Linked DNA regions of Homo sapiens: all the other regions are reported to be linked to region 3. The links are microRNA targets in miRTarBase. Many come from high-throughput screens and were not tested one by one. Region 3 holds a microRNA gene; each other region holds the end of a gene's coding sequence.

Evidence for each region. Region 3 holds the annotated microRNA hsa-miR-10b-5p (UACCCUGUAGAACCGAAUUUGUG, at 1,760-1,782, opposite strand). A microRNA usually pairs through its seed, bases 2 to 8, with sites in the 3' UTR of a target mRNA and lowers its output. Matches are read on the target gene's strand: a 7mer-m8 pairs with bases 2 to 8, a 7mer-A1 pairs with bases 2 to 7 and ends in A, and an 8mer does both.
Region 1: miRTarBase lists CHPF2 as a target of hsa-miR-10b-5p. The part of its 3' UTR that is shown has no 7-base or 8-base seed match.
Region 2: miRTarBase lists FUT6 as a target of hsa-miR-10b-5p. The part of its 3' UTR that is shown has no 7-base or 8-base seed match.

Annotation. Positions count from the first base shown.
Region 1 is chr7:151,238,341-151,242,340 of GRCh38, reverse strand. CHPF2 (chondroitin polymerizing factor 2) reads right to left here. Exons shown (of 4, transcript NM_019015.3): 4 at 3,519-4,000. The coding sequence ends at 3,660. SMARCD3 (SWI/SNF related BAF chromatin remodeling complex subunit D3) reads left to right here. Exons shown (of 13, transcript NM_001003801.2): 6 at 109-204; 7 at 363-464; 8 at 688-849; 9 at 1,819-1,916; 10 at 2,094-2,229; 11 at 2,595-2,717; 12 at 2,844-2,945; 13 at 3,185-3,561. The coding sequence ends at 3,238. It overlaps MIR671 (microRNA 671), which reads right to left and starts at 3,920; the gene lies at 3,803-3,920. It overlaps LOC124901779 (a long non-coding RNA gene), which reads right to left and starts at 2,680. Exons shown (of 2, transcript XR_007060596.1): 1 at 2,589-2,680; 2 at 1,362-2,322. RefSeq lists enhancers at 333-834, 1,591-2,790.
Region 2 is chr19:5,827,922-5,831,921 of GRCh38, forward strand. FUT6 (fucosyltransferase 6) reads right to left here. Exons shown (of 3, transcript NM_000150.4): 3 at 2,487-4,000. The coding sequence ends at 3,567. It overlaps NRTN (neurturin), which reads left to right. Exons shown (of 3, transcript NM_004558.5): 3 at 1-403. The coding sequence ends at 252. Among named protein-coding and RNA genes, the nearest start is that of FUT6, 9.8 kb to the right of the region's middle. RefSeq lists an enhancer at 1-502 and silencers at 110-439, 1,140-1,189.
Region 3 is chr2:176,147,979-176,152,110 of GRCh38, reverse strand. It overlaps MIR10B (microRNA 10b), which reads right to left and starts at 1,808; the gene lies at 1,699-1,808. It overlaps HOXD4 (homeobox D4), which reads right to left and starts at 561. Exons shown (of 2, transcript NM_014621.3): 1 at 45-561. The coding sequence starts at 477. RefSeq lists enhancers at 109-842, 3,371-3,914.

The sequences.
Region 1 (4,000 bases), not on the chromosome of region 3:
GAGGATTTCATCTAAGCCCACTGCCCTGTCGGCTGCCAACTTGGCCTCCTTCTGCTCCTCCCACCTCGTCCCTGTTCTGCCCCCATGGTCCCTGTTGCTCTCCCACAGCCCAGCAAACAGAAGCGGAAGTTCTCTTCTTTCTTCAAGAGTTTGGTCATCGAGCTGGACAAAGATCTTTATGGCCCTGACAACCACCTCGTTGAGGTAAGACCAAGAGCCCCTCCGCCCTTGAATTGCCACCCTCCCACAGGCCAGAATCCCTGAAGAACCAGCACAGATTTGGGTCAGGGACCACCCTAGAGTCCTGGGCCCCACCACTCCAGATGGGCCTTTGGGAGACACAGCTCTTCTCTCCTGGACAGTGGCATCGGACACCCACGACCCAGGAGACGGACGGCTTCCAGGTGAAACGGCCTGGGGACCTGAGTGTGCGCTGCACGCTGCTCCTCATGCTGGACTACCAGGTCTGCACCTGCCATGCTGCCCCGTACACGCCACACAAGGCCCTCAGGGCAGGGCTAGGTCCCAAAGTGGTGCATCTTGAGAGACCTCCTTCCCCTCCCAAACCTATCCTTCCCCAGGGGCATGTTTCCTCAATCAACACATCCCCCTAGTCCTGAATGGCCTGGCCCTGGGCTCCTTCCTTTCTCTCCCTTTGGTCTAACTTTCACAGTCCCCTTTTCCCAGCCTCCCCAGTTCAAACTGGATCCCCGCCTAGCCCGGCTGCTGGGGCTGCACACACAGAGCCGCTCAGCCATTGTCCAGGCCCTGTGGCAGTATGTGAAGACCAACAGGCTGCAGGACTCCCATGACAAGGAATACATCAATGGGGACAAGTATTTCCAGCAGGTAACCTCTCTCCTGAACCCTGGGATCTGGGGAGCAGGCGGAGTTCTCCAGCAGGGGAAGTACCTCTACCAAGGTAACTACCACCCCTCCCTTCTAGATTCCTGAGTAGCAGAAGCAGTACACAGTCATGGTCTTGGAGCCAAGAGACCGACCAGGATTCTAGTTCAGGCCCTACTGTGGATTAGCTCTGTGCTGCAGCCAATCCATGTTAGCCCCCCCAAGTTAGGAAGACCTGGAAACCCTACAAAGCCAACCGCTTTCTGGAATGTAATATTCTTGGCACTTGGAGTTAGGATCCCCAGGTTCTAGTCCTGAGTCTGGACTCTGGGTAAGTGACTCAGCGATTCTGAACCTTGTTTCCTTATCTTTGAAGTGGAGTGACAATACCTGTCCTATCTACTCTCCTGGGCAGTTAGGAAAATCAAATTGCTGCAAAAGTGATTGAGCAAAATTCCACCAAAACAGAGAATATTCTTATTAATGCATTTAAAAATAAATACAGCAGATAAACCTGAGGAGTAAAAATAGCAGTTGATATTTATTGGGCACTTACCATGTGCCAGGCACTGTCCCAAGCACTTTATGTGTATTAGTTCACTGACTTCTCACGGCAGCCCTGGGAGATAGGTATTCTTTTCATCCCCACTCTAGAGATGAAGACACTGAGCCCTGAGGTGTTAACTTGCTCCAGGTTGCATAGTAAGTGGCAGAGGCAGGACTGATACATAAGCAGGCTGACCCAGGGCCCGCACTCTCAACCCCTGCCCCACACTGACCCACCCCCTATCTTGTCAGCCATACCGGTGGCTCCACCACCAGACCAGCCCACCCCAATCCCATCCCCATGCGCACTGAGGAATCAGACTTCCTCTCAGCTTCTTGTGGCCTTTCTAGAACAAAAGGATCTACAACTGCATGATGATCTCTTCAAGAAGAGTGATCTCTCTCTCCCCAATTGTCCTGCTTCAGATTTTTGATTGTCCCCGGCTGAAGTTTTCTGAGATTCCCCAGCGCCTCACAGCCCTGCTATTGCCCCCTGACCCAATTGTCATCAACCATGTCATCAGGTGAGGTGGCCCCAGCTTGCTTCTCAGACCAGGGAATGATCTCGTTCCTGCCTTCCCTGCCCCTCCCTCTCCTCCCACTCCCATCTCTTCTCCCTCCCTGTTGGATCTGCCCCAGCCCCGGGGCCCTGGGGCCGTATGGGGGCATCGTGGACACGAAGGGCTGGACTTCCCTGGCAGCGTGGACCCTTCAGACCAGAAGAAGACGGCGTGCTATGACATTGACGTGGAGGTGGAGGAGCCATTAAAGGGGCAGATGAGCAGCTTCCTCCTATCCACGGCCAACCAGCAGGAGATCAGTGCTCTGGACAGTAAGGTGGGGCCCAAGCCCAGAGCTGGAGTGGGACATTAACCCAGAGATGATAGAGGAGACTTTTCTGAGACCAGGGTGTGGTTGCAGATGAGCAGTCTGGGTTAAATTAAAAAAAAAAAAAAAAAAGAGACCAGACTCTGGGCCAATGGGACACACATGGCCCGTCCATGCTGCTTGGAGCTGAACCTCATTCCAAGTTTAGTTCTGCCCATCCCCTCCTCCCCTGGGACTTCAGAGAAATCAGGGGCTCTGAGGGGTTGTCCTTCACAGAAGAAACCCCCTCTCCCTCCCCTTCCCACCCGCTTCCTTTCCCCTCGTCTCCCACATCACCAAAGCCAGGTGGAAAGCATCTATCTTTCTACCTGCAGATCCATGAGACGATTGAGTCCATAAACCAGCTCAAGATCCAGAGGGACTTCATGCTAAGCTTCTCCAGAGACCCCAAAGGCTATGTCCAAGACCTGCTCCGCTCCCAGAGCCGGGACCTCAAGGTGAAGAGGGAGACTCAGGGAGTACTGGAGTGGAAGACAAGCACAGCGGGAAAGAGAGTAAACGTTGTACTCCAGGGGCAGGTGAGGGGATTCAGGGCTCAGGGCTCACCCCACGCTCCCTCCCAGGTGATGACAGATGTAGCCGGCAACCCTGAAGAGGAGCGCCGGGCTGAGTTCTACCACCAGCCCTGGTCCCAGGAGGCCGTCAGTCGCTACTTCTACTGCAAGGTATGCAGGGACCCTTGCCCTGAGGCTTCCCCATCCTCAACTCCAAGAGAAACCTCCCTGTTCAGCTTGTGGGCAGCCCTCGCAGCTCCCCACAGTAAAGCTTCACCACGCTGCCTCACCATGCAATGGCCCTCCCTGCTCCCAGATGCTCTTTCAGGGCAGGCGGTGTCAGTAGGTGGGATTGTCCTGATCACTCACCAGAACACTGACACCTGCTCCTGTTCTCACTTCCTCTAAAGATCCAGCAGCGCAGGCAGGAGCTGGAGCAGTCGCTGGTTGTGCGCAACACCTAGGAGCCCAAAAATAAGCAGCACGACGGAACTTTCAGCCGTGTCCCGGGCCCCAGCATTTTGCCCCGGGCTCCAGCATCACTCCTCTGCCACCTTGGGGTGTGGGGCTGGATTAAAAGTCATTCATCTGACAGCAGCCGTGTGGTCATTGGAAACTGGGGAGGGGAGGGGGAGAGAAGGGGAAGGGAAGAAGGTGGGGAGGCAGTGGGTCCCTCGGGACGACTCCCCATTCCCTTCCCTTGGATTCTTCTCCTTACTCAATTTTCCCTAGACCTAAAAACAGTTTGGCAGAAGACATGTTTAATAACATTTTCATATTTAAAAAATACAGCAACAATTCTCTATCTGTCCACCATCTTGCCTTGCCCTTCCTGGGGCTGAGGCAGACAAAGGAAAGGTAATGAGGTTAGGGCCCCCAGGCGGGCTAAGTGCTATTGGCCTGCTCCTGCTCAAAGAGAGCCATAGCCAGCTGGGCACGGCCCCCTAGCCCCTCCAGGTTGCTGAGGCGGCAGCGGTGGTAGAGTTCTTCACTGAGCCGTGGGCTGCAGTCTCGCAGGGAGAACTTCTGCACCAGCCCTGGCTCTACGGCCCGAAAGAGGTGGAGCCCTGAGAACCGGAGGAAAACATCCATCACCTCCAGCCCCTCCAGGGCTTCCTCCTCTTCCTGGCCTGCCAGTTCACCTGCCAGCCGGGCTCGGGCCGCCAGGTAGTCAGCGTTGTAGAAGCAGCCCTCCGCAGAAGCCTGCCGGTCAAATCTCCCCCCTA
Region 2 (4,000 bases), not on the chromosome of region 3:
CTGGGCCTGGGCTACGCGTCCGACGAGACGGTGCTGTTCCGCTACTGCGCAGGCGCCTGCGAGGCTGCCGCGCGCGTCTACGACCTCGGGCTGCGACGACTGCGCCAGCGGCGGCGCCTGCGGCGGGAGCGGGTGCGCGCGCAGCCCTGCTGCCGCCCGACGGCCTACGAGGACGAGGTGTCCTTCCTGGACGCGCACAGCCGCTACCACACGGTGCACGAGCTGTCGGCGCGCGAGTGCGCCTGCGTGTGACCCTACCTCACTCGGCCGGCGCGGCGGCCACTCCCCCCGCCTCGACGGCACCACTGGCCGGCCCCGCGAAAGACTGCGCGTGCGTAGAGCACGCCGGCGCGGCCCCGGGACTCTCGCGATAACTGTACTGAGATAAAGTGTGGCAACTCGAGCTGGCTGGTGATTCATCCTCGGCGAGGGGCTCGCGTGTGGGCCACGTCGCCGTCTCCACCGGGAAAGCGGGGACCAGTGGGGGGGGCCCAGCTGCAGGGTAGTGGGAGGATGCTGTTTGCTTTGGGGGAAGGGTAGATGCAAAGTGGGTCCAGTTTATGGCGGACAAAAAGGAAAATGGGGTGAATGGGGCTATGTTGGCAGGGACCGTCCTTCCTGCCTCCCTACGGGTCCCTCTGCCCGTCCCGAGCGTGTTCCGGTCCGCACCTCTTCGCTGTGTGGGCTTCTGGGGAGGGGAAAGGGAAGCTACGCTCGGATGAAGAGACCGAGGTCTAGGTGGACCCCGTTTCCCCAGCTTGTTCCCTTCCGCACCTCTCCGCGGTGCGGGCTTCTGGGATGAAGACACTGAAGTCTAGGTGGGCCCAGTTTCCCCAGATTGTCGCTGACTGCACCTCTCGCTTCTGGGATGAAGAGACTGAGGTCTAGGTGGACCCAGTTTCCCCAGCTTGTTCCTGACTGCACCTCTCTGCTGTGTGGACTTCTGGAGAGGGGGAAAGGGGGAGACACTGTGGGTGAGGAGCCTGAGATCCAGGTGGAATCAGTTCCCCAGCGTCTCCCTGTCCGCACTGATCCCGCTATGTGGGTTTCTAGGAAGGGGGAGCCACTCTGGGGGTGAGGAGAGTGAGGTCCAGGTGGACCTGGGCCTCCCTTATCCGACGGCCTCCTCGGGCCGGTCTTCGCCCACCAGGGTGAGCTGAAAGCCACTATCTCCTTCCACCAGCTACTAAAAATACCCGCACGCTGCCCACCTCCCGGCGGGGAGAGGCCTGGGGCGGGCGCCAGCCCCATCCAGCCCGAAGCCGGCGCCTGCTGGTGTAGAGCTGGGTCCCCAGAGACCTGGGTCCTCGGCCCATAAAAGCCCTGGCCGGGCCTCCACGGGGGGGATTTACGACGAGCCCCTGCGGAGTATGGAAAAAGCCCGGCTCGGTGTTTAGATTTCCCCACGGTGTCACCTTGATGCTTGGCAGGCCTCGGGTGTTGGGTTGCCAGAGCGCGGGAGGGGTCGGCGGGTCCCACGGTCGGTCTGAGGGGCGGGGAAGGGGCGGGCACTGCGAGCCCAGAGCAGGCACCGGCGAGGCGAGACTCCTCCCCTCCTGCCCCTCAGACTGGGGGTTCCCAAGGCTACAACCCTTCTCCTTAGCTGGGCCCCCTCCCCTCCTTCCCACACGTCTGCCCTTAGGACCACCCTCTAACCACAGTGTCCCTTCCCAGGCTCAGCCCGCATCCCCCCACCCCCCGCAAAGCTGGAGGGCGCAGATCGGAAACCGCCCCCAGGGAGAATCACCCAGCCATGAAGGAACATCCCTAGCCCCTGGCTCCCGGGGACCCACAGCTACAGCTGGAGACACTCAAGGCGGCTAATCAGCAGGACTTCCAGGGAGCCCTGAGAGCAGGGCTTGGCGGCCAGGCGGGTGATCTGCTTGGGAAGCAGTTTCAGGGCTGCCGCTGGCTGGGGTCCCCGCCTACCCCCGCAGTCTTCTGACTCTGAGGTTTAAGGTGGTGGATTCCTCCACCCTTTGGGCCGACTCAGCCCGGCCTCCGCAGAGAGGCCGGAGTTCCCAGACGCTGCGGAAGCCCAAGTGACGCTTACTCCGAGCCTCAGTTTCCCCATCCTAGATGGCCTGGCCTCAGAGAGGAGTGTTGTTCAGCCCAGGACACACAGCGAGAAAGCTGACCATCAGGGGTCTGCCGCCCCCCCGAAGCTCCCCTGCCACAGTGTGCATGTGTGTGTGAGTGTTGCCCACCCTCCGGGGCCTCCCGGACCTCGGCCTTCCTGTCTCCCACCCAGATCCAGCGTCCCAACCACAGGGCGCGGGCCCAGCCCACCAGGGAATTGGAACATAAATAAACCGAGAAGCCCCTGCAGTTCCCTGGGGCTGCGGTTGTCATCAGCGCATCGGCACACCGGATGAGGGTCTCTCTCACACACACACACAAGCACACTCACAAGACACAGAGATCACCACCCATAAGGGCTCAGCAGGCAGGACCCATGATCCTACACAGTCACCTTCCACACAGAATTGCACACTCAGAAAGGGACACTCCCCCCTTTTTTTTTTTTTCTTGAGACAGTCTCACTGTGTCGCCCAGGTTGGAGTGCAGTGGTGCGATCATGGCTCCCTACAACATCTGCCTCCTGGGTTCAAGCGATTCTTGTGTCTCAGCCACCTGGGTAGCTGGGATTACAGGCACCGGCCACCGCACCCAGCTAATTTTTTTTTTTTTTTTTTTTTTTTTTGAGACAGAGTCTCGCTCTGTCGCCAGGCTGGAGTGCAGTGGCGCGATCTCGGCTTACTGCAACCTCCGACTCTCTGGTTCAAGCGATTCTCCTGCCTCAGCTTCCCAAGTAGCTGGGATTACAGGCATGCACCACCACGCCCGGCAAATTTTTGTATTTTTAGTAGAGACGGGTTTCACCATATTGGCCAGGATGGTCTCGATCTCCTGACCTTGTGATCCGCCTGCCTCGGCCTCCCAAAGTGCTGGGATTACAGGTGTGAGCCACCGCACCCGGCCTCATCATCGGTTTTCTTTGCAGTATTACATCTGGAAACGGTGCGGTGATTATCTCTCTGCACCCCTCACAGGCGGCTAACAACATCACAAACAAATCAGCCAGAACCATCACTCATGGGTGGGGCCCCATGGGTGCCAGTTCCCAGGGCCCAGTGCCCTCCAGGGTGAGGTCCCCAGCAGGTGAGGCTCCTAGCAGGTGAGATTCAGTGTGGAAGGTCTCTGGGAGCAGGTCCCAGCAGGTAAAGTCCCCAACAGCCGAGGTCCCCAGTAGGCAAAGTCCCCAGGAGACATCCCCAGCAGGCCAGGCTTCCGCAGGGGACGCTCCTGGAAGCCAGCATGTGAAATCCCAGGTAAGGGACATACCTGGCCACCGAAGACTCCAGCAGGTGAGGCCCCAGGAAAGTGAGGACCCAGGTAGGTGAATCCCCAGGCAGGTGAAGCTGCAACAGGTGACCGTCCCAGGCAGGTGAGTCCTCAGGCAGGTGAAGCTTCAGGCAAACGAGTCCTTAGGTAGATGAGGCCCCCACTCAGGTGAGGCCCCAGGAAAATGAGGTTCCTGGCAGCCCAGGCCCCACACCAGCCTCTCAGGTGAACCAAGCCGCTATGCCGCGTGTCTGGTACCTGGATTCCTCCTGCAGTTTCCAGCAGGCCTTGCAGAAAGCGAGTGCCCAGCTGAAGGAGCGAGGCCGCAGCGTCTCCCGCCAGCGAAAGTAGCTCAGGTAGCGGGCGTGGTCCTTGTCCAGCTCCTGCAGGTACCGGGCCAGGTCCTTGGGGCTCTGGAAGTCGTCCACGTGGATGAAGGCGTCGGGTGGCAGGAACCTCTCGTAGTTGCTTCTGCTGGGGCCCAGCACCACGGGCACGGCCCAGGCCTCCAGGGCGTTCCTCCACAGCTTCTCGGTGATGTAGTCGGGGTGCAAGGAGTTCTCGAAGGCCAGATAGAACTTGTACCGGGACAGCGTCTCCATCATGGTTCCCTGGGGCAGGGGCTTGTGGGAGCGTCCGTACACGTCCACCTTGA
Region 3 (4,132 bases):
CGGGCTGGGATGTGGACAGAAAGGTTACTGGACCCTAGCCTTACCCGAATTCACGTGCACCTTCTTCATCCAGGGGTAGACCACGGCCGGCTGCTTGAGTGCCGTCCCGGAGGGCGGCTGCTTGGGGTCGGACTGACTGTAGGCCCGGGCGCCAGGCAGGGGCGCCGGCGGAGGCGCCGGGGGAGCTGGGCAAGGCTCTCCTGGAGCGGCGTAGTGACCGCCGGGGCCGCCTGGCTCTTGTCCGTGACCCCGCGCAGGCAGCGCCGAGCCAGGCCCGGGGCCGCTGCCTCCGAAAGGCTGCTCACCGAAGTCGGGCCGTGGGTAGAGCCCCGGGGGCTGGAAGTCTGCGCCCTGCGCGCCGCCGCCGTAGTAGTCGGCGCCCTGCTCGCCTAGGTAGCCGCCCTGCAAATACTCCTCGCACGGAGGGAACTTGGGGTCCACATACTTGGAGTTCACCATATACGAACTCATGACCATTAATTTCAGAAGGTAGAAAATACTAATTTTTCTCGTGTTGTCTTTTTTTCTCCTTCCATAGGGCCCTCCTACTTGCTGTCAACTGAATAAAGTTGGGCAGCCATGTGACCAGGCCAGCCAATGGCGAGGGAGCAAGTTTATCACCGGGTTGGTGAGCATCTCATAATTTTCACAAATTTAACTAAATAACATACGTGTAATCAAGTAGCTTGCTATGGCACATTTGAGAGCCCCTGCCAGATATTAATGTAGTTCCAGTCCCCAGCACCCCATTCCCCTCAGGTAATCCCAGCTTTTGTCTGCCACTGATTTTGCCAACCTTCCGTGGCCCTTCCACTCACCCCCAGCTGAATGCAACCCCCGCCCCCCGACACCAAGTAGGCACAGCTCAAGGGAGAATGAATCCTCCTATTGGGGTACAGAGCAATGAAAGGTGGGTGGGTGAACTCGCCTCTGAGTTGGGCAGAGTGCCCCAGGCGAGGAGGGTTCCTGCCTGCCCGCCCTGCCTGCAGCCGGCGGGAGCAGGGATTCTGCCATACAAAGGCCGCCGTCCTGGCTTTGTCTTCATCAGGGTCACCCAAAAGTTACCAGAATCTGGCCAGCTTGAATCAAATTAGGCAATGAGTAACCGCCATGCTTTCTACCAGTGCCCAGGCCCGGGGGTTCCCAGCCAAAGCTGGGCCCTGCCAAAATAGCAGGGGGCCCTCGCTGCCCTTGCCCATGTAGCTGGGGGTGGGCTGGGATGGTGGCAAGGGCACCTCCACCTTGTCAAAATGCACCCTAGAGCTCCCCACTGGGCTTCTTTGAAGCTTGCTTTCTTCCCACAGGCCCCAAATACAAGCAAGCCCCCATTTGGGTACCTTTGCACCTCATGTTCCTGGAGGGCAGAGCTGGGACTGGGCAAGCTGGCCTTGTACCTCACTCCCTAGTACCCCAAAACCTAGCCCTTTGGCCCTGCATCCATGCAACCAATTAGGCTTGCATTCTCTCTTTCTCTCTCTCTCTCTCTTTCTCTCTTTCTGTCTTTCTTTCTTTTCAGCACCCAGAGGATACTCTGTTTAAAGGTGAGGAGCTTCTGGAGAGGAAAAGCTGCTCTATGTCACCAGGCGCAGCTGATCCTCCTGGAGTCCAAGGTAATAAAACAGAACGAGGCGGCTGACCAGCGCCGGCTGCTTCTAGTCTCCATGTCGCACTTTGGTCTCTGGCTATTCCGAAGAAACGTGAAGTTTTTGCATCGACCATATATTCCCCTAGAATCGAATCTGTGACTATACGGATACCACACAAATTCGGTTCTACAGGGTATATATAGACAACGTTACAACCTCTGGGTCCCACCCAGAGTGAGGTACCTAGGTCGCTGCCGGCCCCAATCTCTTCCTCTGAGCCACCACCGTTCGACGCAGCCACCCGCACTTTCTGAGACAGTTCAGGTAGCCTAATGGGCTTGGCGACAATTTGAAGCAATGAGTTCCCTCATTCTTCTGCCAGGGTCAGGGTTACCAAGCAGGCGAACAACCAGAATATTCTTCTTAAGAAAGAAAAAAAGAAAGAAAGAAAGAAAAATAATCCATCCCAAGGATGGCGGCTTTATTAACCACCCTCCCCCACCAGGATCCAAATAACCCTCCTCCTTACCAAGTGGTATTTTCCAGAAAGGAACAAATGCCCTCAGCGGCAGAAGAAAAAGAAGCGAGAGGGGAATATCCTGTGTCTACTCCTTTTCCTACTGCCCGACCAAGCCAGGTTGTCTGCCAAAGCTACTTCTCCAAGAAGTCGCGCATTTACCTTCATGGGCCCTGATCCGGGCTGGCCTCTCCGTTCCGCTGCTGCTGCAGACCCCGAGGCAGGCGCTGCTCACAGGCACCGAGCCGCCTTGGGCTGAGGCCGGCGCGCTAATGGTGAAGGGCAGGGCGAGGGGTCATTCGAAATCATTTACAAACATATCACAAACTTTCATTATTTTTGCTTTGCCGACAGCAGCACACAAGAGTACAAAAGTTCACAAATTTCACCCGCCCCAGCGCCTCGGCACTGTGCAGTGCTTGTCCCTCAGTTCAGGGCATGGAGAGCGCAGACTCACTCAGAGCCTCGATGGATTTCAGGGGCACAGGGATGCCCTGGCTCGAGTGGGGCTTTTGGGTGCCTAACTGTAGGCTGAAGGTGTTAGATTTTTTTTTAACTGTCTTGATTGCCCTTCCTACCTCCCACATAATTCAAAATTTAGTTTCAAGCCTGGGCCTGGGCCTGGTGGGGTGGGGCAGGGATACTCCCCCTCCAAGCCTGGCACTTTGCTCATCCCCCCATCCTTTGCTTCCACCACTTTACCTGTTTCGTAGGGATTTTGGGGGCGCCAGTTCTAACAAGGGCTATGAGGCTGCAGAATCTGTTTATCCCAGGAGAGTCCCCCCAATTTCCCTGAATGCCAAAGACTCCCAAGTATCCACCTTCCTGGGACACTGGGCCTAGGCTCTATCCAGACAAATTGGGGGAGCCTGCTGAGCCGGCTGGAGACCGGGGTGAATATACACATTTTCATATTTGTTAGACGCTGTGACCTGCATTTCACCTTATTGCTCGACTTGTTCAGACAGGTCAAAGCCAACGAGTTATTGATGAACAAAAGCGTTAAATATTCACCTCCCGCTCAACTGCCCATACTAATGCTTTTGATCTCTAGGGCTTTTTGTGCTGTGTTCAGCTACAGGGCGCTGAATGTGGGTTTGCTAGCGAGAAGCTTCTGCAGAGATAAGCACCCAGAGCCAGTGCAGGGGAGGAGAGAAGCAAGACCAGAGGTCCCCAGGACACCAGATTTTCCAGACTGGAGCCCAGAGCCCCTTTCACTTGAGCCAGCCTGGTGTATAGGGGTAGTTGCTCTTCTAGGGGTGTGCACAGTCTACAAAGGGTCGACTAGACTGCCCAGCCCAGCGGGGCCAAAAAACCTGTCTCTGAGGCCAGCCCCAGCTTTTCCAACCAAGAAGGAGGGAGACTGGTTCCTGCAGCCCTCACATATTCCAACTCCCATTAAAATAAAATCACTTCCGTTTTGCAGTGAGGGAGGGGCCACAGTTCTTTCTGTGACTCTCCCTCCAATACCATCGTCTTAATGAGATGGTCCTCCAGGAGGCTTCACAGGCCTAATCAGAAATGTACCTGTCTTTCGCGGCACAGGCAACTCAGAAAGATCCAAACATCCAAGCCAAGGATCCCACGAGTCTCTGGCCCCACCCCACCGCATCCACCCCACTCCACCCTCCTATGCCTCCTTGCAGCACCAGCGCCTCTGGGGCGGAAATTCTCCAACTGCAGTTACAGAGAAGCAGAGGTGAAAAGAAGGTCCGTATCCCTCCTCGCTCAGCCAGTGTCCCAAGCCCAGGGCCCACACCGCTGCAAACAGATCGGGGGAGGGGCGGGGAAGGAATGTCCACATAAAGCTCAGAAGCGGGCAACTCAACACACCCACGGCCACAGAGGATTGAGTTTTTGTTTTCAGTGAATTTTTTTAAAAACAGAAGGTTGGCCAGGCTAGACCAGGTTAAGAAGGGTTGGGCTGCGGAGGGGACCGCATTGCCTTGGTGTTTACTGCGTTGGTTTGAAGCCGCTAATAAGACAGGCTGCTAATTAGCAAGCTCTTAACAGAAGTGAGCGCCTTGGC